3 separate regions of the Homo sapiens genome follow, and regions 2 and 3 are each linked to region 1. Evidence: fine-mapped expression QTL. A gene starts in region 1. Each other region holds a variant in brackets. All regions are shown on one strand. Distances are between the middles of the regions. Region 1 holds the start of DUS2 (dihydrouridine synthase 2). Region 2 overlaps NFATC3 (nuclear factor of activated T cells 3). Region 3 overlaps PSKH1 (protein serine kinase H1).

Region 1 (7,072 bases):
CAATACAAAATCATAACCTTATCATTACACTGCCCTCTCTTTAAATAGGCAAACAATGACAATCTTATCACTATGAAAGGATGAGGTTTAGCTCCCAGCAGCAGCCCAGGTCAGCACTGTGGAGAGGTACCAAAAGGTCATTAGGGCCAGGCGTGGCGGCTCACACCTGTAATCCTAGCACTTTGCGAGGTGGAGGCAGGAGTATCTCTTGAGCCCAGGAATTTGAGACCAGCGTGGGTAACATAGCTAGACCTTGTGTCTATTTTTTTTATATTTAAAAAAAGGCGATTTGGTCCTACTCAAAGGAAACAGGCAACTCTGCCCTTAGCCTGATCAGGACCACACTAGGAGCAGCCTTTGGTTCAGTGTGGCCAAGAACTTCCTACCAAAGAGAGATGACCTTAAGGAGAGGTCTCCCTATTACTGGCCTTGAAAAAGCAAACATGGGACATTTATTTAGTGGGGTTATTGCAGAGGGGATATGCCCAGGAGGTAGAGACGGCCCGATCTTTGGAGACTGGGTCACCCCGGTTGAGAATCATAGCACCTTCTCTCATAAGTTGCTTTAGTGTGGTGCTAATTGATGGCCTGCAGGGAGTGGTAGGAGGTAAAATATCAAGGGGATGGTTCCTGGGAAGTCTGTTCTGGCAGGAGGGCTAGCATGAGATCACTCAGATTCTCCAAGGCTCTGGAGAGAGTACTTGTCCGGAAGCATCCCTCTTGTCTTGTGGGGGTACAAAGCCTTACAGGAATTTGCTGGGACTCTGGGAAAGGCAGTACAGCATAGACAAATGGTTTATCAATTTGGGAGGGCCCAAGTATCACCTGGGGGAGTTTACAAAGAGTATTCTCAGGTCAAACTTTAGAGAGCTTAATCCCATCTGGAGTGGGGCTCAGGATTCTGTTATTTTTTTTGAGACAGAATATCAGCTCTGTCACCCAGGCTGGAGTGCAGAAGTGCAATTTTGGCTCACTGAAACCTTCGCCTCCAGAATTCAAGCCATTCTTGTGCCTCAGCCTCCCAAGTATTTGGGATTACAGGCGTGCACCACCACATTCAGCTAATTTTTTTGTATTTTTAATAGAGATGGGGTTTCGCATGTTTACCAGGCTGGTCTTAAACTCCTGACCTCAGGTGATCCTCCTGCCTCAGCCTCCCAAAGTGCTGGCATTACAGGCGTGAGCCACCACACCCGGCTTTTTTTTTTTTTTTTTTTTGAGATGGAGTCTTGCTCTGTCCCCTAGGCTGGAGTGTAGTGGTATGATCTTGGCTCACTGCAACCTCCGCCTCCCAGGTTCAAGTGATTCTCCTGCCTCAGCCTCCCGAGTAGCTGGGACTACAGGCGCGTGCCACCACGCCGGGTTGATTTTTGTAATTTTTTTTTGTGTATATATATATATACACATATATATATACACGTATATATATATACACGTATATATATATATACATATATATATATACGTATATATATGTATGTGTATATATATATATACGTATGTATATATATATATATATATATATATATACGTATATATATATATAAAGAAAATGCTATATGGTTATTTTTCCAGTTTTGTAAAACCGTTTAATCATCTCTCCTCTTTCTCGGCTACCGAGTTGGGATAGAAGGCAGAACCTGAAAATGTACAAGCAAAACTTCTGTGTTCGTCTACCCTTTACTTTTCTGCCAGTACCTTCCAGAGATTTCGCCAAGACGCCCGTTTGTCTTGGGCATTGTTAGAGAGTAACTCTGTCTACTGCTAGTCACATTTCCTTTCCTTTCCTTTCCCTGGGGGCTTAATGGATACCTTTTTGGGGGCAGGAAATACAAACTAAATGTTTATAAATGAAAACATCAACTGAAAGAGCCTTTGTCCTAGATGTGGAGGTTTGGTGTATGAATCCTCAGAAACTACTGAATTCCGCCCCGGTGCTAATTATTCTTAGGGGAGGCACATAAAAACATCATTTATTGTTAGAAATCATGACATGATACAAAGTCAAAATCCACTTGTGTCTTGCTAAAGACTACAGAAAGCCATGCTCAGCAGCTTCTTCTCCAATGCTGGCCAGCAGCGTACCTTTCCAAGTCACAAAGCAGTTCATCCCGCCCTCAAGGAGCCGACAGGGCAGCCCAGAGCCTCCCACTGACAAGTGTGGTCACCCACTCAAGATACTGGGAAAGATCCCTGTTCTAGCATCACATTTTAATCAGATTTGTCAAAATCAGGTTGCTTGGGGCAAAGGCTCTTTCACCGAGGATGCTAGTCCTGGAAGACTTCTCCTTCGGCGAGCCGCCAGCTCAATCTTCTGAACCAGGCTCACATCCCAGGGATGGGTCACAAAACTGATGACGGTGCCTGGCACCTCGCTCCCCACACGGCCCACTCTCCCTGCTCTGTGGATGTAATCTTGCAGCGTTGGGGGGAAATCATAATTGACAACCAGCTCCACACCAGTGCTGTCCAGGCCCCGAGAGGCTATGTCTGTGCAGAGAAGTATGTCTCGGGAGCTCTTCTGGAAGGACTGGAAGATTCCTACCCTCATCAAGGCTGGCATTTGCCCCTGCAACCTTAGGTGTTGGATTTTGTGGTCATCCAGAATATATCCCAGCCAGTTCACAGTGCTGGAGCTATTACAGAACACCAGAACAGTTCCTGAGGGACCAGTCCTTTCTGCTCTGTCACGATGCTTGAGGATGTGCACCAGCTCGGCCACCTTATCTGCTCCCTTCAGTCTCAGAAATGTCTGTTTCACATGAGGCATGATACAGTGGAGCTTGGAGCTGGTGATGGTGGTGACAGCATCTGGGCTGGCGACTTTATTCAGCAACTGGCCTACACCTTCGGGAAATGTGGCTCCTACCAGCACTAACTGAGCTTTGGGATTGAAGGGGTCTTCCAAGTCAGCTGGGCCTTCTGCTATGTGGCTCTTCTCTAAGATGTAGTCCACCAGTTCCAGGAAGCTTTCATCCAGCAGTGTGTCTGCCTCATCCAACACCAAGAAGGAGAGTTGCTCCAGACTGATCAGTCGACTTTTCAGGGCCTTCCACAGAGCCCCTGGAGTGGCCACAAGCACATCTGCTGAAGGCTGTCTGGACAGCTGCAGCCTGATCCTACGCATGCCGTGGCCTCCCTCCAGGTCCCGCACCAGCAGGCCCAAGGAGCGGCCCAAGGGTTGGGCCACAGCCCGCACCTGTTGGGCCAATTCTCGGGAAGGAACAAGGACCAGGCCTCGGGGCGCGGGGATAGGAAGGGAGTCCAGGCTTGGCTGGCCCAAGAGCCGTTGAAGCAGCGGCAGGAGGTAGCTGAGAGTCTTGCCACTGCCGGTTTCTGCGGCGCAAACGACATGGCGGCCGCGAAGTAGTGAGGGGATGGTGCTAGACTGCACGGTTGTGGGCTGAACGACTTCAGGCGCAGCCTCCTGTAGTGCGTGCAGCACACGGGGCTCCAGGCCCAGGTCAGCAAAGCTGCCCTTAGACGAGAGCTTTCGCACCGCTGGCGCCTCCTGTTGCGCGCGCTCGATGGAGAAGTGGTCCCGACGCGCGCGTCGACTCTTCCAGCCTTGAGAGGCTAGCGGCGCGCGCTCCCAACGGCCCAGTGTGAGGCGCGCCGGCTGGTTCAACTCCGGCCGCCGCGCCGAAACCAGCAGCGGTCCGGGTCGAACCAGCACCGGCCTCGGGAGGTTCCGCCGCCTGCTCTGCCGCTGTTCCAACTGCCGCTGTAGAGCCACTGGGATGCGCACCACCGGCAGGGGTTCGTCGGGACTGCGGACCGTGAGGCCCCGTCGCGGCGCCAGGAGCAACCGAGTCACGAGGGAAAAGAGCCGCACCGGCCGCGTTAGAGCCATGTTTCCCTTAGTGCGGGAGAAGCGCACATCAGTGACGTCACGGACGCGCCGCGACCTCGCGTACGGTGGCTGGCGAGGCTCAGTACGGTGTGTGGAGCTGGAGCACCGTGAGGAAGAAGCGAGGTTCTTTTTAAGAGTTCAGCTGCGAGGTCTGTAGCTCCGAATAGGGGATGGCGACATCCAGACCCGGCCAGCCTTGGGGAAGGGCGCGTCGTGGAGGCAGGACTGGAGGCTGGCGATACGAGGCGGCAGTGGGGCCTTGACCCAATGGACCATGAGGGCGGAGGGCTTCTGGCGATTGGTTACCTGGTTCCTGGGATTCTCTTTAGTTGTTCCTCATTGCCCTGAGATAGCTTGTCCCGTGCTGGTATCCGAGGTTGCAGCTGTTTTCCCAGATGTGTTCCCTGCGCAGGGTCTGGTAATCCGTGTTTATTGAGAGTTTGAATGAATGATCAGGCCTAGGGGCCGAGACAGGGGTCTGAAGTCATAGATCTGGGCTCAACCCCTCACCCTCTCTGTCTGTGAGCCCAGAGTGCAAGCTGATGGCTTTCAGCTTCTTCTCTCTCTCAAGTGGGAGATAAGGTCTTCAGGTTTTATTTCAAGTTGGGTCATCTTTTCTTCACAGTTATTTTCCTTCCTTTTAAGCCAAGGTTCACTCTCTACTCCCTCGTCACGCGTCCCAACTTCTCATCCAGAACCCACCCCTCTTGCAGCCCGCTCAGCTCCACTGGCTTCCCCGTCAGAAACCTGAATTACCTAAAATAGTAGTAAGAAGGGTGCTGCGACCCTACAAAGTGATCAAGTACGTGGCTTATCATGTAGCCCTGGTCAGGCAGAATATTTTACCTGAATTCAGATATTCGGGTTGTAAAAACAAGAACTATACGAGTCACTTTTTTTTTTTTTTTTTCTGAGACACAGTCTCGTTCTGTCACCCAGGCTGGAGTGCAGTGGCGCAATCTCGGCTCACTGCAACCTCCACCTCCTGGGTTCAGGTGATTCTCCTGCCTCTGCCTCCCAAGTAGCTGAGACTACAGCCGTACACCACCCACGCCCGGCTAATTTTTTCTGTTTTTAGTAGAGACAGGGTTTCACTATGTAGGCCTGGCTGGTCTCGAACTCCTGGCCTCAAGCGATCTTCCCACCTCGGCCTCCCAAAGTGATGGGATTATAAGCGTGAGCCACCATGCCCAACAGATACTTCTTGAACAGATCTGGAAAATGGGTGTCAGATCTTTTCTGTAATTTGCAGTGCCTGGGGTGGGAGATAAGGTAAATATTTATGGATTAACTCTCTGGGAGGTTCGTAACATCTGGAGAAAACGTTTTAGTTTCATCAAATACCAATGAAAAGATAAAAACTTTGCTTTTTTTGGAATAGTATGAGGAAAAACTTTCACAATTTTAAGTACACTCTACCCTTGTGCTACACAATTAGACTTTCTGGAGAGTTACCAGATAAATCAGAGGAAGAGAGGCTTTTTTTCTCCACAAGAAAATATCTGGAAGTAGGAAGAGAAAGTTTTGAGTAGTGATGGGTGAATGAACAGTCATTGGATAGGGTAGTGGTTCTAAAACAAGGGTGATTTTGCCCTTTCCCTCCCACCATATTTGACAATGGCTGGATACTTTTTTTTTTTTTTTTTTTATAGACAGTCTCACTGTGTTGCCCAGGCTGGAGTACAGTGGTGCGATGTCAGCTCACTGCAGTCTCTGCCTTCTGGGTTCAAGGGATTCTCCTGCATCAGCCATCTGAGTAGCTGGGATTAGAGGTGTGCGCTACCACTCCCAGCTAATTTTTGTATTTTTAATAGAGACAGGGTTTCACTACGTTGGGCAGGCTGGTCTCAAACTCCTGACCTCATGATTTGCCCACCTTGGTCTCCCAAAGTGCTGAGATTACAGGTGTGAGCCGCTGTGCCCGGCCCAATTCTATGCTACTTTTATGATTCTTTCCAAACTCAGGGCTTCTCCTTATCCAAATAGTTCCTTGGGGCCAGGCTCATGCCTGTAATCCCAGCTACTCGGGAGGCTGAGGCAGGATAATCGTTTGAACCCGGGAGGCGGAGGTTGTTGCAGTGAGCCGAGATCGCACCATTGCACTCCAGCCTGGGCGACAGGGCGAGACTCTGTCTCAAAAAAAAAAAAAAAAGGTCCCTTGGATGTTTGTCCCAACAGGTTTCATCCATTTCCATGTGCCACTGTTTTTCAGATATCAAACAAAGAATTACTCTGTACAAAGCCAGAACACATATATCAAAGTAATCCTGAAGTATCAGAACAAAATAATAGGTATGTATATGCATTTGGGTTTTTGGGTTTTGTTCAAATATCCAGGGTAGGGTAGCTGGTTAATATATAGTTGTTTTCTCATTATGCTTGAGTCCTTACAATATGATTACCTCAAAATTTCACAGGAGTTAGAGCTTGCCTAAGCCTGTCTGTGTCCGTGGCCACTAATTTCTTCTTGTCACATCACTAGACACTGCCTACCTTTTTTCCCCCTCACTCACAGAGGACATTGATTAACTTCTAAATGTTTTCTGAGATATTTTTATAAGTAGTGCTTTAGAAATAGGAAAGGTATCCTTATTGTGAAAAAAAATCTAAGCTCCTGAGATCAGGAGCTTGGTGTGTTCCTTGGATCTCAGTTAATAATGGTATATTCATTCATTCATTCAATCATTCATTCAACAAATACTTCCTGAGCACCACGCATGTGCCAGGCATTGGTAGTGAGGAAAACAGCCAAAATCCCTGCCCTTGTGGAGTTTACATTCTGATTTAATTGATTTGGGTTAAGGCCTAGACAAGGTCTTGCTCTGTCACCCAGGCTAGACTTCAGTGGTGCCATCTCGACTCACTGTAACCTCTGCCTCCCAGGTTCAAGTGATTCTTCTGCCTCAGCCACCCCAGTAGGTGGGATTACAGGCACGTGCTACCAAACCCGGCTAATTTCTGTATTTTTAGTAGAGATGAGGTTTTGCCATTTTGACCAGGCTGATCTCGAACTCCTGACCTCAGTTGATCTGCCTGCCTTGGCCTCCCGAAGTGCTGGGATTACAGATGTGAGCCATTGTGCCCAGCCGAGAAATTGGTATTTTTAGAAACCTCTCCAGATGTAACTAGGCTTGAGAATCACAGTTATAAATGAAGCACTTTGGGAATTGCAAAGCATTACAGCAATAAAAAGTGCTATTGGTATTACTTTATTGTTCC
Region 2 (5,000 bases), 98 kb after region 1:
TGCCTACTTTCTTCTCTATTTGTACTAATTTCTTAGTGATCTTTTGGTCTTATGGCTTTAAATTTCATATATACGTTAATGATTCCCACATTTACATAGCTAGCTTGTGTTCTTATGCACAAATATCTATTTGACATTTCCACTTGGAAAGCTTACTGGACTCTCATATTTAATATGTACAAAGTAGAAGTTTTGGTTTCTTATCTCAAGTCTGTCTCACTTTCTTTATTTCAGTAATTGCTGTTCTTTCAGAAATTCAGAAAATTTCAGAAATACTGTATTGTTGTTGTTGTTTTTTGAGACAGCCTCGCTCTGTTGCCCAGGCTGGAGTGCAATGGCGCGATCTTGGCTCACTGCAAGCTCTGCCTCCTGGGTTCACGCCATTCTCCCACCTCAGCCTCCCGAGCAGCTGGGACCACAGGCGCCTGCCACCACGCCCGGCTAATTTTTTGTATTTTCAGTAGAGATGGGGTTTCACCGTGTTAGCCAGCATGGTCGTGATCTCCTGATCTCGTGATCCACCCGCCTCGGCCTCTCAAAGTGCTGGGATTAAAGGTGTGAGCCACTGCGCCCGACCAATACTGTGTTTTTAATAATAGTTCAAGGCTTTAAACCTTGGTGTCACCCTTGACTGTTCTTTCACATCCAGTCAACAAGTTCCGTCAGCACTACTTTAATCCAAAATCTGACTTCTTAATGCTGCTTCTGCTTTTACAGCTCACTACCACTTAGGTCCTGTATTCCATCTTTTCTCACCTGGATGATTACAGTAGCCTCCTAAATTTATATCAGTTCATATATATCAAATGATGATACTTTTCTGTTTAGAATGCTCCAGTGGTTTCCCATCTCGTAAGGCCTTACTTGACTAGCCTCTCCCTGACCACCCGTAGCTCTCATTATTCTGCCTCCTTACTCAGTTCAAGTCCCACTGGCCTTGTTTTTTCTCATACAGTACACTTCAACAATGCTGTACCTCAGGTCTTTGCACTTACTATTATCCTCTGCCTGCATTATGCCCCTAAATTTCTGTATAGCTCAGTTACATTAATATTCTTCTGCTATTTCCTCAAGTATTAGAGAAGGCTTTCCAGACTTTCCTATTAAATTAACATCTTTGCCTCCTCTATATTTTTTCCCGTTTTATTTTCTCTTACAGCAAATATCACTACCTGACATATTTTACTAGAATGTAAGCTCCATGAGGAGGGGATTTTGTTTTGTTTACCATGGTGTTTTTAGTATTCAGAACATGCCTGCTTACATAGTAGTTGCTAAAAAATTTTTTTGTTAAATGAATAAGTTGAATCATGTTGTTTCCAGTGTAGACAGAATAGGTATATGTGGTTGAAAAATGAACAGCACAAAGTTAGCTCCCCAAAAATGGCAAAGTGAAATAAAGAAACATTTCTGAAGAACATTGTTGAACTGTAATCCCAGCACTTTGGGAGGCTGGGGCAGTTGGATTGCCTGAGCCCAGGAGTTCAAGATTAGGCTGGGCAACAAAACGAGACCCTGTCTCTACAAAAAAAAAAAAAAAAAATTGCTGGGAGTGGTGGCATGCACCTGTGGTCTCGGCTACTTGAAAGGTTGAGGTGGGAGGATCACTTGACCCAGAAGTTTGAGGCAGCAGTGAGCTATGAGTGCACCACTGCACTCCAGCCTGGGTGACAGAGCGAGACCTAGTCTCAAAAAAAAAAAAAAAAGTCCGGGTGTGGTGGCTCATGCTTGTAATCCTGGCACTTTGGGAGGCCAAGGAGGGTAGATTGCTTGGGGTCAGGAGTTTGAGACCAGCCTGGACAACATGGCAAAACCCTGTCTCTACTAAAAATAACAAAAATTAGCCGAGTGTCATGGCAGGCACCTGTAATTCCAGCTACTTGGGAGGCTGAGGCTTGAGAATCGCCTGAACTTCGGAGGCAGAGGTTGCAGTGAGCCAAGATCGCACCACTGCATTCAAGCCAGAGAGAGACTCTGTCTCAGAAAAAAAAAAAAAAAAAAAAATTAGCTAGGCATGGTGGCGAGTGCCTGTAGTCCCAGCTACTCAGGAGACTGAGACAGGAGGCAGGAGAATTGCTTGAATCCAGGAGGCAAGATTGCGCCACAGCACTCCAGCCTGGGCGACAGAGCAAGACTCCATCTCAAACAAACAAACAAACAAACAAAGAAAAACCCACTTTTGGAACTCTCCTACCTTTGACTACTTGTTATGTTGGATAATATATACAGGTTGATAATGCAGGTTGTTATGTTGGATAATATATACAGGTCATATTCAAAATCTGGAATGTTCCAATATCCTATACTTTTTAGCTCTGACATGATGCCACAAGTGGAGAATTCTTAACACAGACTTTTTTTCATTCACC[G/A]AATTATTAAAAAATATTGTCCAAAATTACCTTTCAGGCTATGTGAATAAGGTATATATGAAACATAAGTGTATTTCATGTTTAGACTTGGGTCCCATATCAAGATATCTCATTGTGTATTTGTAAATGGGCCAAAAAAAAAAAATCCAAAATCCCAAGCACTTCTGGCCTCAAGCATTTTGGATAAGGGATATTCAGCCTGTGTCCCCTCCCCCTTTTTCAGCTACATTGAGTTGGATTTTCTGTTCTTTGCAGCCTAGGAATATCTCATTTCTTTTCTTTTCTTTTTTTTTTTTTTTTTTTTTTGAGACGGAGTCTTGCTGTGTCACCCAGGCTGGAGTACAGTGGCGTGATCTGAGCTCACTGCAGCCTGTATGCTATGAGTATTTTTTAGAATTATGGATGTGTTTTTTTTTTTTTAATAAACACATTTATTGAGCTGGGCACAGACGCTCCCTCACACCTGTAATCCCAGCACTTTGGGAGGCTAAGGTGGGAGGATAGCTTGAGCCCAGCCTTGGCAACAAAGCAAGGCCCTGTGTCTACCAAAAATGACAATAAAAAGTAACCAGGAGTGTGGCATGTACCTGTGTCCCAGCTACTCCAGAGGCTGAGGAAAGGATCACTTGAGCCTAGGATGGGAGGTTGAGGCTTTAGTGAGCTATGATCACACCATTGCACTCCAGTCTAGGTGAGAGAGTGAGACCCTGTCTCAAAAAAAAAAAAAAAAAATCTTTTTCAGGGCATAATGTTTCCTGATTATCTTTTTAGAAAATGTGGACATAAAAAGGAAAAATTACATATGTAATTGTATATGTAATAATCACACATATCTGCAGAAATAACCAGATGCATTGAAAAAACACACACATGCCACTTCTTTAGTGGAGCTAATGACATACATTTTATATCCCACTTTTTTCTCTCGAGATTGTTATTATTTACTTTCTCATCTAGTAATTTATACATCTGAGTTTTCTAATTTCTTGTTTTGTTGGGTTTTTTTTTTTTTGCCTTCCTCCCCGTAGATCTTGAGCCAGATGATTGTGCATCCATTTACATCTTTAATGTAGATCCACCTCCATCTACTTTAACCACACCACTTTGCTTACCACATCATGGATTACCGTCTCACTCTTCTGTTTTGTCACCATCGTTTCAGCTCCAAAGTCACAAAAACTATGAAGGAACTTGTGAGATTCCTGAATCTAAATATAGCCCATTAGGTGGTCCCAAACCCTTTGAGTGCCCAAGTATTCAAATTACATCTATCTCTCCTAACTGTCATCAAGAATTAGATGCACATGAAGATGACCTACAGATAAATGACCCAGAACGGGAATTTTTGGAAAGGCCTTCTAGAGATCATCTCTATCTTCCTCTTGAGCCATCCTACCGGGAGTCTTCTCTTAGTCCTAGTCCTGCCAGCAGCATCTCTTCTAGGAGTTGGTTCTCTGATGCATCTTCTTGTGAATCGCTTTCACATATTTATGATGATGTGGACTCAGAGTTGAATGAAGCTGCAGCCCGATTTACCCTTGGATCCCCTCTGACTTCTCCTGGTGGCTCTCCAGGGGGCTGCCCTGGAGAAGAAACTTGGCATCAACAGTATGGACTTGGACACTCATTATCACCCAGGCAATCTCCTTGCCACTCTCCTAGATCCAGTGTCACTGATGAGAATTGGCTGAGCCCCAGGCCAGCCTCAGGACCCTCATCAAGGCCCACATCCCCCTGTGGGAAACGGAGGCACTCCAGTGCTGAAGTTTGTTATGCTGGGTCCCTTTCACCCCATCACTCACCTGTTCCTTCACCTGGTCACTCCCCCAGGGGAAGTGTGACAGAAGATACGTGGCTCAATGCTTCTGTCCATGGTGGGTCAGGCCTTGGCCCTGCAGTTTTTCCATTTCAGTACTGTGTAGAGACTGACATCCCTCTCAAAACAAGGAAAACTTCTGAAGATCAAGCTGCCATACTACCAGGAAAATTAGAGCTGTGTTCAGATGACCAAGGGAGTTTATCACCAGCCCGGGAGACTTCAATAGATGATGGCCTTGGATCTCAGTATCCTTTAAAGAAAGATTCATGTGGTGATCAGTTTCTTTCAGTTCCTTCACCCTTTACCTGGAGCAAACCAAAGCCTGGCCACACCCCTATATTTCGGTGAGTTGATGGAAATGGCTGCTGGTCATTTTTCATGTTTATGGGTCATTGGTGGCATATAACTACATTATCAGTATATAATGGTTATATAATGGTTTGACCATTTCTCCTCTTCCTATTTTTAAAAAAAATTTTACCAAATAACTTAATGTTTATTTTCATTTGCATCTTAAAAGTATTTTTAGATAGGTTAAATATAATTTTAAAATATATAGCTAATGAATTGTTGATAATAATAAATTACATTTAAAAATCCTTGCTAGGTTTGGAGGCTTATGCTTTGTATTCCCAACACTTGGGAGGCTGAGGCAGGAGGATTGCTTGAGCCCAGGAGTTTGAGACTAGCCTGGGCAACATAGCAAGATCCTGTCTCTACAAAAAAAAAAAAAAAAAAATTAACCAGGCATAGTGATGTCTGCCTGTAGTCCTAGCTGCTTGGGAGGCTGAGGTGGAAGGATTGCTTGAGCC
Region 3 (7,072 bases), 110 kb before region 1:
GCAGTAAATGGGACCATACTGGTACTGAATGAGAGCCTGGGAAGCCAGAGAATAGTCCCTTATACTCAGTTAAAAGTCAGGAGTGCCCAACAGTGAATTAACTGTTACACTCGGGACCATTCCAGTCTAATTAGATTTGACTCAAGGCTCAGATAAAGCTTTGGGTTTGGTTCCCAGCATCATCATGGCAAGTGTGAGCTTTTGGTGTCTATGGAAGGCACTGGGAAGAGTGAGAGGAGCAGGCACAGGTGGTGATAGAGGGAACAATTTAAAGACAAGCCCCTTTATCCTGATGATGATCCCCTCAGTAACGTTGGGGCAATGCCTTGATGTTTACTTGGTTCTCAGATATGGATTGGCCATCAGGTTGGCACAATCTGTGGCTATAAACTGGCAATAAGAAATCCTCTCCCAGCCGGGTACGGTGGCTCACGCCTGTAATCCCAGCACTTTGGGAGGCCAAGGTGGGCAGATCACCTGAGGTTGGGAGTTCGAGACCAGCCTGACCAACATGGTGAAACCCCGTCTCTACTAAAAATGCAAAATTAGCCGGGCGTGGTGGCACATGCCTGTAATCCCAGCTACTCGGGAGGCTGAGGCAGGAGAATCACTTGAACCCATGAGGCAGAGGTTGCAGTGAGCCGAGATTGTGCCATTGCACTTCAGCCTGGGCAACAAGAGCGAAACTCTGTCTCAAAAAAAGAAACAAAAAAAAAGAAATCCTCTCCCAGGCTGGGCATGGTGGCTCACATTTGTAATCTCAGCACAGTTTGGGAGGCTGAGGCAGGAGGATCACCTGAAGCCAGGAGTTTGAGACCAGCCTGGGCAACATAGCGAGACCCCATCTCTTAAAAAAAATTTTTTTTAGCCAGGTGTGGGCACATGCCTGTAGTCCCAGCTACTCAGGAGGCTGAGGTGGGAGGATCACTTGAGCCCAGGAGTTCAAGGTTGCAGGGAGCTGTGAATGTGCCACTGCACTCCAGCCTGTGTGAAGACGGAGTCTTGCCCTGTTACCCAGGCTGGAGTGCAGGGGTGCGATCTTGGCTCACTGCAGCTTCCGCCTCTCAGGTTCAAGTGATTCTCCCGCCTCAGCCTCCCGAGTAGCTGGGACTACAGGCATGCGCCACCACGCACGGCTAATGTTTTGTATTTTTAGTAGAGATGGGGTTTCACCATGTTGGCCAGGCTGGTCTCAAACTCCTGACCTCAGGTGATCTGCCTGCCTTGGCCTCCCAAAGTGCTGGGGTTACAGATGTGAGCCACCACACCTGGCCAAGACCCTGTCTTAAAAAAAATTTTTTTTTTTAAAAAGCCTGTCCTGGTGTTCTGGGATAGAGCTATAAAAGCATGCCAGGTTGCTGGCAGGAGCTTGAAGGAGGTGCTGCCTCTGCTTACCAGGAGACCGTCTAGCTGTGAAGTGAGTGGCTGGAAGGAGTGATTGCTGGGTCCCATTCTAGCGATGTCTGTCCTCACCTCCATGCAGAAAAGTAAAGAGAAACCAGAGCCCTGCCAGGGAGTGGCAGAGGCTGGTACTTCTCAGACTCCTGATGTTCATACACATCCCCTGGAATCTCGTTAAAATGTAGATTCTGATTTAATAGGTCTAGGTAGGGCCTGAGGGTCTGCATTTCTAATAAACACCAGGTGGTGTTGATAACACTGACCTATAAGAACATGCTTTAGGAGCAGGTTTTTTAGGCAGGTGCCTTAAAAGTGGGCTGGGGTGGTGAGGGACAGTCTTAGAGAAGAGGGAACCTGGAATTTGGAGCATGGCTGTGAGGAGTCAGACCAAGAAAAAGGGAATGATAGCTACAGAAGTATAGGAGGGAGAAAGCAGGAGGCAGGCCTGGGGGCAATGGCCTGAGGGACAGGTTCATATATAGCTGTGGTCCGTCAGAGGACCCTGCAGGGTACTTGGGAAGTTCAGTTGTCCTAATAGCAGGCTCTGGAGAACCACGTGAAGTTGTAGCTGAAACTGAATTTTTTTTTTTTTGAGATGGAGTTTCGCTCTTGTTGCCCAGGCTGGAGTGCAATGGGGCGATCTTGGCTCACTGCAACCTACGCCTCCTGGGTTCAAGCGATTCTCCTGCCTCGGCCTCCCAAGTAGCTGGGATTACAGGCATGCGCCACCATGCCCAGATATCTAATTTTGTATTTTTAGTAGAGATGGGGTTTCTTCTTGTTGGTCAGGCTGGTCTCGAACTCCCAACCTCAGGTGATCCGCCTGCCTCAGCCTCCCAAAGTGGTGGGATTACAGGCGTGAGCCACTGTGTCCGGTCTGAATTTTTTTTTTTTCTTTGAGATGGAGTCTCGCTCTGTCGCCCAGGCTGGAGTGCAGTGGCACGATCTCAGCTCACTGCAGCCTCCACCTCCCAGGTTCCAGCGATTCTCCTGCCTCAGCCTCCCGAGTAGCTGGGATTACAGGAGTGTGCCACCATGCCCGGCTAATTTTTGTATTTTAGTAGAGACGGGGTTTCGGCATATTGGCTAGGCTGATCTTAAACTCCTGACCTCAGGTGATCTGCCCGCCTCAGCTTCCCAAAGTGCTAGGATTACAGGCGTGAGCCACCGCACCCGGTGAAACTGAAATTTTAAGATAGATCTGGGAATGTCTGAAGCTTGAGAAGCTGATTGTGTTCTGGGAGCACTGCATGGTGCCAGGCTGTTGAGGGTCCAGCTGGCAGAGGGGGCATTGAACTTAGCCCAGGAGTGAGGGAGAGAGATTTCCCAAGATACGCTGACAGAGGAAGGACTCTGCTACAAGCCTGTAGGTTTGCCTGAGTTCCTGATTCTGGCAGTCGTTGACCTGGCAGCTAATCTAATTGGAGCTTGCACAGTCTTGCTAACTGGCTATTGATTACCTGAGGGTTGGAAAATGACGAATGGGGTGGGGAGTGGGTTCCTGCCCGCTCCTACTGTAGCCGAAAGACTGGGTCCTTAGATTCTGTTGTTCTTCTGCTGGAATCACAGGGCAGGACTCTGCAGCTCACAGTGAATGAGTGAGTGAATGAGTGAGTGAGTGAGAGAGAGAGAGAG[T/A]GTGTGTGTGTGTGTGTGTGTGTGTGTGTGTGTTGGAGAGGCACTGCTCAGCCTTTGCTCCCACTACCCTTTACCTGGAGCTGAAAAGCATCAGTTTCCAGCTCCAGAGGCAAATCCTGGCAGGTTCTGGTGGCCCTTATCTGTGACCAGGAGCTTGCCTGACCCCAAAAATCAGATTCTATCACCCGCTGTGGAGAGCTCTGGGTTGGGAGGGATCCGTCTGGGACATTTCCTGGGGGAGGGGTCCTTATCATGAGATCAGGCTCTCTCAGCTGGAGAACATCCAGCAGACCCTCAGGCCCCACAAAACCTGTTGAATCAGAATCTACATTTTAATGAGATTCCAGGGGATGTGCATAAACATCAGGAGTCTGAGAAGTACCAGCCTCTGCCACTCCCTGGCAGAGCCCTGGTTTCTCTTTACTTTTCTGCATGGAGGTGAGGACAGACATCGCTAGAATGGGACCCAGCAATCACTCCTTCCAGCCACTCACTTCACAGCTAGACGGTCTCCTGGTAAGCAGAGGCAGCACCTCCTTCAAGCTCCTGCCAGCAACCTGGCATGCTTTTATAGCTCTATCCCAGGACACTAGGACAGGCATTTTTTGTTATTGTTGTTCTCCTGGCCACTGCCCACCCACAAGCACACCTGCTCACACCTGGGGAAAATGCAAGAGACGTGAAGGCCTGTTCTTCCTATCCCTAGAGGTTGAGATTGCCTGGGGAGAAGGAACTAGAATAGGGAATGGCCATAGAATGAACCCGCATTGGCAGACACATGTGAACACAGGCCTTGGCATAGAGCCACTGGGCCTGGGCAGTCTGGAACATGGACTATGGTGCTCAGGTCAGGTGGTTGGGCCCTGACCCCACCCACTCCAGCCATCTGTCCTATATGTGTAATAGGTGTTTGCCATTAGGAAGGCCATGTAAGTGAGCAAGCCTCTGCCAGGATAACCTGTGAGAGAGAGAGTGTTCCATGATGAGGGGGTTGTTGCTGTGTGAATGAAGGACCTCTGACGCAGCAGCGTTTGGAGGTATGCATTCTTCACCAGCGAGTGTCTCGTGGTGCTTGGTGCCTTTCTAGGGGCACCTTTCCTGTTCCCTGACCCCATAGAGTGCTCTCCCCTGTACACCAGGCCGGGTCTGGTGTGCCTATTTCCTGCAAGCTCTGTCCATGCAGCCCCAGTCCTCTGTCAGGCTCAGTGGCATCCATGGACTTGAATAGAAAGCTTCCTGCAGAAGATGAGTTTTGAGAAGGAGGAGGCCCAGAGAAGGGAGCATTGCTGAGTGCTCCAGAATAAACAGGAGATTGGGAGTGACAGAGCAGAGGTTGAAGAGGCTGGGGCAGGTCTGGTGTTTGTTGTTGGGAGCCCTCTGCACTGTGGGAGGAGCCCTCTGGGTTCTGGGTAATGGAGGAGGAAGGCAGCAGAAAGTGGGAATGGAGCCTGGCAGGAGGAAGGCTAGCTGGAGGCTACTGGAATAATTCCATCCTGTCCTCCTGGGGATGTTTGGGGCAGATCAGGGATCCCAGGGAGTGGGATCCACATGGCATATGTAAGCCACAGTATAGGAGGTGAAGGAGTATGGAGCAGAGTCCTAGCTCTGCAGGAGGGACATCAGCTTGTATGGGCAGACTTGGAGAGGATTCCAGGCTACCCTCTGACCTGGAGAGCATGTGGGGTCCTGCCTACCATCCTGGCACTCCAGATCCCCCAGCCTGAAGCCCATGCCCTAGACCCCACCCCACTCCCTGCACACCACAGGCCTGAGCCATTGCCCCCATTCACTCTCCACACCAAGCTTCTGCCTCAACTGTTCACGCTGCTCCCAGTATCGGTCTTAGTTGTTTCCTTTAGAAATAATGCTGCCTACTGCCATTGTGTGGTGCCCACTAAGTAGCAGACCCAGGGCTGAATGTTCTACACCCCCCATCTCCAATCTATGACAACCCTGCCAGGTGGTACGTAATCCCCCACCTTACAGATGAGGAAACTGAGGATGGTGAGGTTACATAACTTGGCCATGGTCTCCCGACTGGAGGGTGGCACATCTGGGATTTGATTCCAGGCTGTCTTGGCTTCAGAGTTCTTGGCCTGTCTAGTGCTGCAGTCTGCTCTCCCTGGTATGTGTGCCTCAGCACGTTGCTGGTTTCTTGTTTCAGTGCTTTCTGGCTGCTGATCAGTGGACACATCTCTCCTGTCTAGCCTGTAGGGTCCTTGAGGACAGCATGTACATCAATACATATGCTGTCCACTGTCGTGTCCAGGCTTAGTGCACAGTGGTACCTGTATGCTGGGTTGAACTGCAGTATTTATAAGTGATAACTGGTGGGGGAATTTTCTCTTGGCTTCTCCTGAGGGAAGCACCAGTGGCTATTGGTGATGCCCTGGGAAGCGTCCCAAATGTGACTGCTGGCAGGCAGACAGGCTGTGCAGCCAGTGGAGTGCTCCCCTCAAGGGGCCAGACTCCAGGAGGAAGCAGAGAGCCTGCTGGCAATGCGCTTAGGGGGCTGCTGGCCACAGCTGCCTGTGGGCACAGGCAGGGGGAGGATTTAAAGGCCCAGGGCTGGTGTGTGCTTGTCAACTTTTAGGGCAAATACAAGACTCTTGGAAGAGGGGTAAATGCTGAGGAGGAGATGACTGGAAAGGAAAAATCTGAATGTTTACCCAGCACCCAGAGGCACTGGAGTGGAGAGGGCACGCTGGAGTGGAGAGGGCATGCTGGAAGTGGTGGGGAGACACAGGTTGGGAGAGGTAGCGAAGGCCTGTGTGAATGTGAGAGCAGTTTGAGGACACAGTCACCTTGAGAGGCGGCTTCCTATCACAGGAGGCCTGGAGGAGCTGTTTCTAAAGGATGACACAGAAGGTGAGTCATCAGCTACAGACTCATGCTAGAGAACTGTCAGGGTCCTCCAATGCAGAGAGTCTGTGATTCACTTGACATGAAATGTGACATCCTTGATGTCAGTGCTTTTGTCAAGAGTTCTATTCCTAGAGGCAGGACGGATGAAGGGGCTCTTGTAGGATTGATATTAGAGTGATGCCATTAGGAGCTTTGCTGTCTGCTGCATTCAGCATCCTGAATTATCACCCTCCTCTGCTTGGCCAGTCTCTGAGCTGTGGGTGAGCCCAGGTGACTGTACTAGGAACAGGTGGGCTTGGGTAGAATTTCTCACAGAGCCTTGTGAGTGCTGCTGGGCAGGGGACAGAGTACTGTTGGGAGAGGAAGCCCACCTTCATAGCCACTCTGCTGCTACCTGGGTGACAAGGGCTGGTGGGAGGTGGCCTCCCAGGGTTGGGTGTCTGGTCTGCAGGTTGACCATACATTGATCTGGGGCTAAGTATACCTGAAGGGGCAATGAGCTTGACCACCTGTAGTTCTTTTTTTTTTTTTTTTTGAGATGGAGTCTTACTCTGTCGCCCAGGCTGGAGTGCAGTGGTGTGATCTCGGCTCACCAAAGCCTCCACCTTTTGGGTTCAAGCAATTCTCCTGCCTCAGCCTCCCAAGTAGCTGGGATTATAGGTGCCAGCCACCACACCTGGCTAATTTTTGTATTTTTAGTAGAGACGGGGTTTTACCACGTTGGCCAGGCTGGTCTGGAACTCCTGACCTCAGGTGATCTGCCTGCCTTGGCCTCCCAAAGTGCTGGGATTACAGGTGTGAGCCACCACACTCGACCTCCCCACTTCTTAAAGTGACTCTAACATGCCTTGGGATGTAGAAGATAAAATGAGATGCAGAGAATGTGGCATGTCTCAGTGCTCTCTAGGTGACGGGGCTTGGTTATGCAGCCTGGTCCTATGCTCTGACTTTCTGTCTCCCTCCCTGCCCCTCATCTCCCCGCATATGTCACAAGGAGCAGCCATGTGAGCAGGGATAGGACCTCATCCCAGAGTCATGGGGAGCGCTGTCCGGGTGTCTGGAGAGCAGGAGACCAAATGTATATGCTGGTGGCAGAGTGGAGGCAGGGAAGCGGGGAGCGTGTTTCCTGGCTTATGCTTGGATTCTCCTGGATGCTTTAATTGCCTGACTT

The links. PIP is the estimated chance that this variant, and not a neighbour inherited with it, causes the effect.
Region 2: its variant is the best candidate, but not a certain one, in a credible set for the expression of DUS2 in whole blood (INTERVAL, PIP 0.62).
Region 3: its variant is the best candidate, but not a certain one, in a credible set for the expression of DUS2 in whole blood (INTERVAL, PIP 0.89).

What each region holds. Positions count from the first base shown.
Region 1 is chr16:68,019,350-68,026,421 of GRCh38, forward strand. It overlaps DUS2 (dihydrouridine synthase 2), which reads left to right and starts at 3,935. Exons shown (of 17, transcript NM_017803.5): 1 at 3,935-4,002; 2 at 6,066-6,145. It overlaps DDX28 (DEAD-box helicase 28), which reads right to left and starts at 3,883. Exons shown (of 1, transcript NM_018380.4): 1 at 1,567-3,883. The coding sequence starts at 3,853. The coding sequence ends at 2,231. RefSeq lists enhancers at 2,584-3,334, 3,335-4,085, 3,796-4,035.
Region 2 is chr16:68,118,590-68,123,589 of GRCh38, forward strand. It overlaps NFATC3 (nuclear factor of activated T cells 3), which reads left to right. Exons shown (of 10, transcript NM_173165.3): 2 at 3,398-4,532. Among named protein-coding and RNA genes, the nearest start is that of NFATC3, 36 kb to the left of the region's middle. RefSeq lists a silencer at 483-612. The variant G/A (reference allele first, on the strand shown) is at 2,370.
Region 3 is chr16:67,912,174-67,919,245 of GRCh38, forward strand. All of the region lies in intron 2 of PSKH1 (protein serine kinase H1), which reads left to right. Among named protein-coding and RNA genes, the nearest start is that of CTRL, 16 kb to the right of the region's middle. RefSeq lists an enhancer at 3,543-4,066. The variant T/A (reference allele first, on the strand shown) is at 3,037.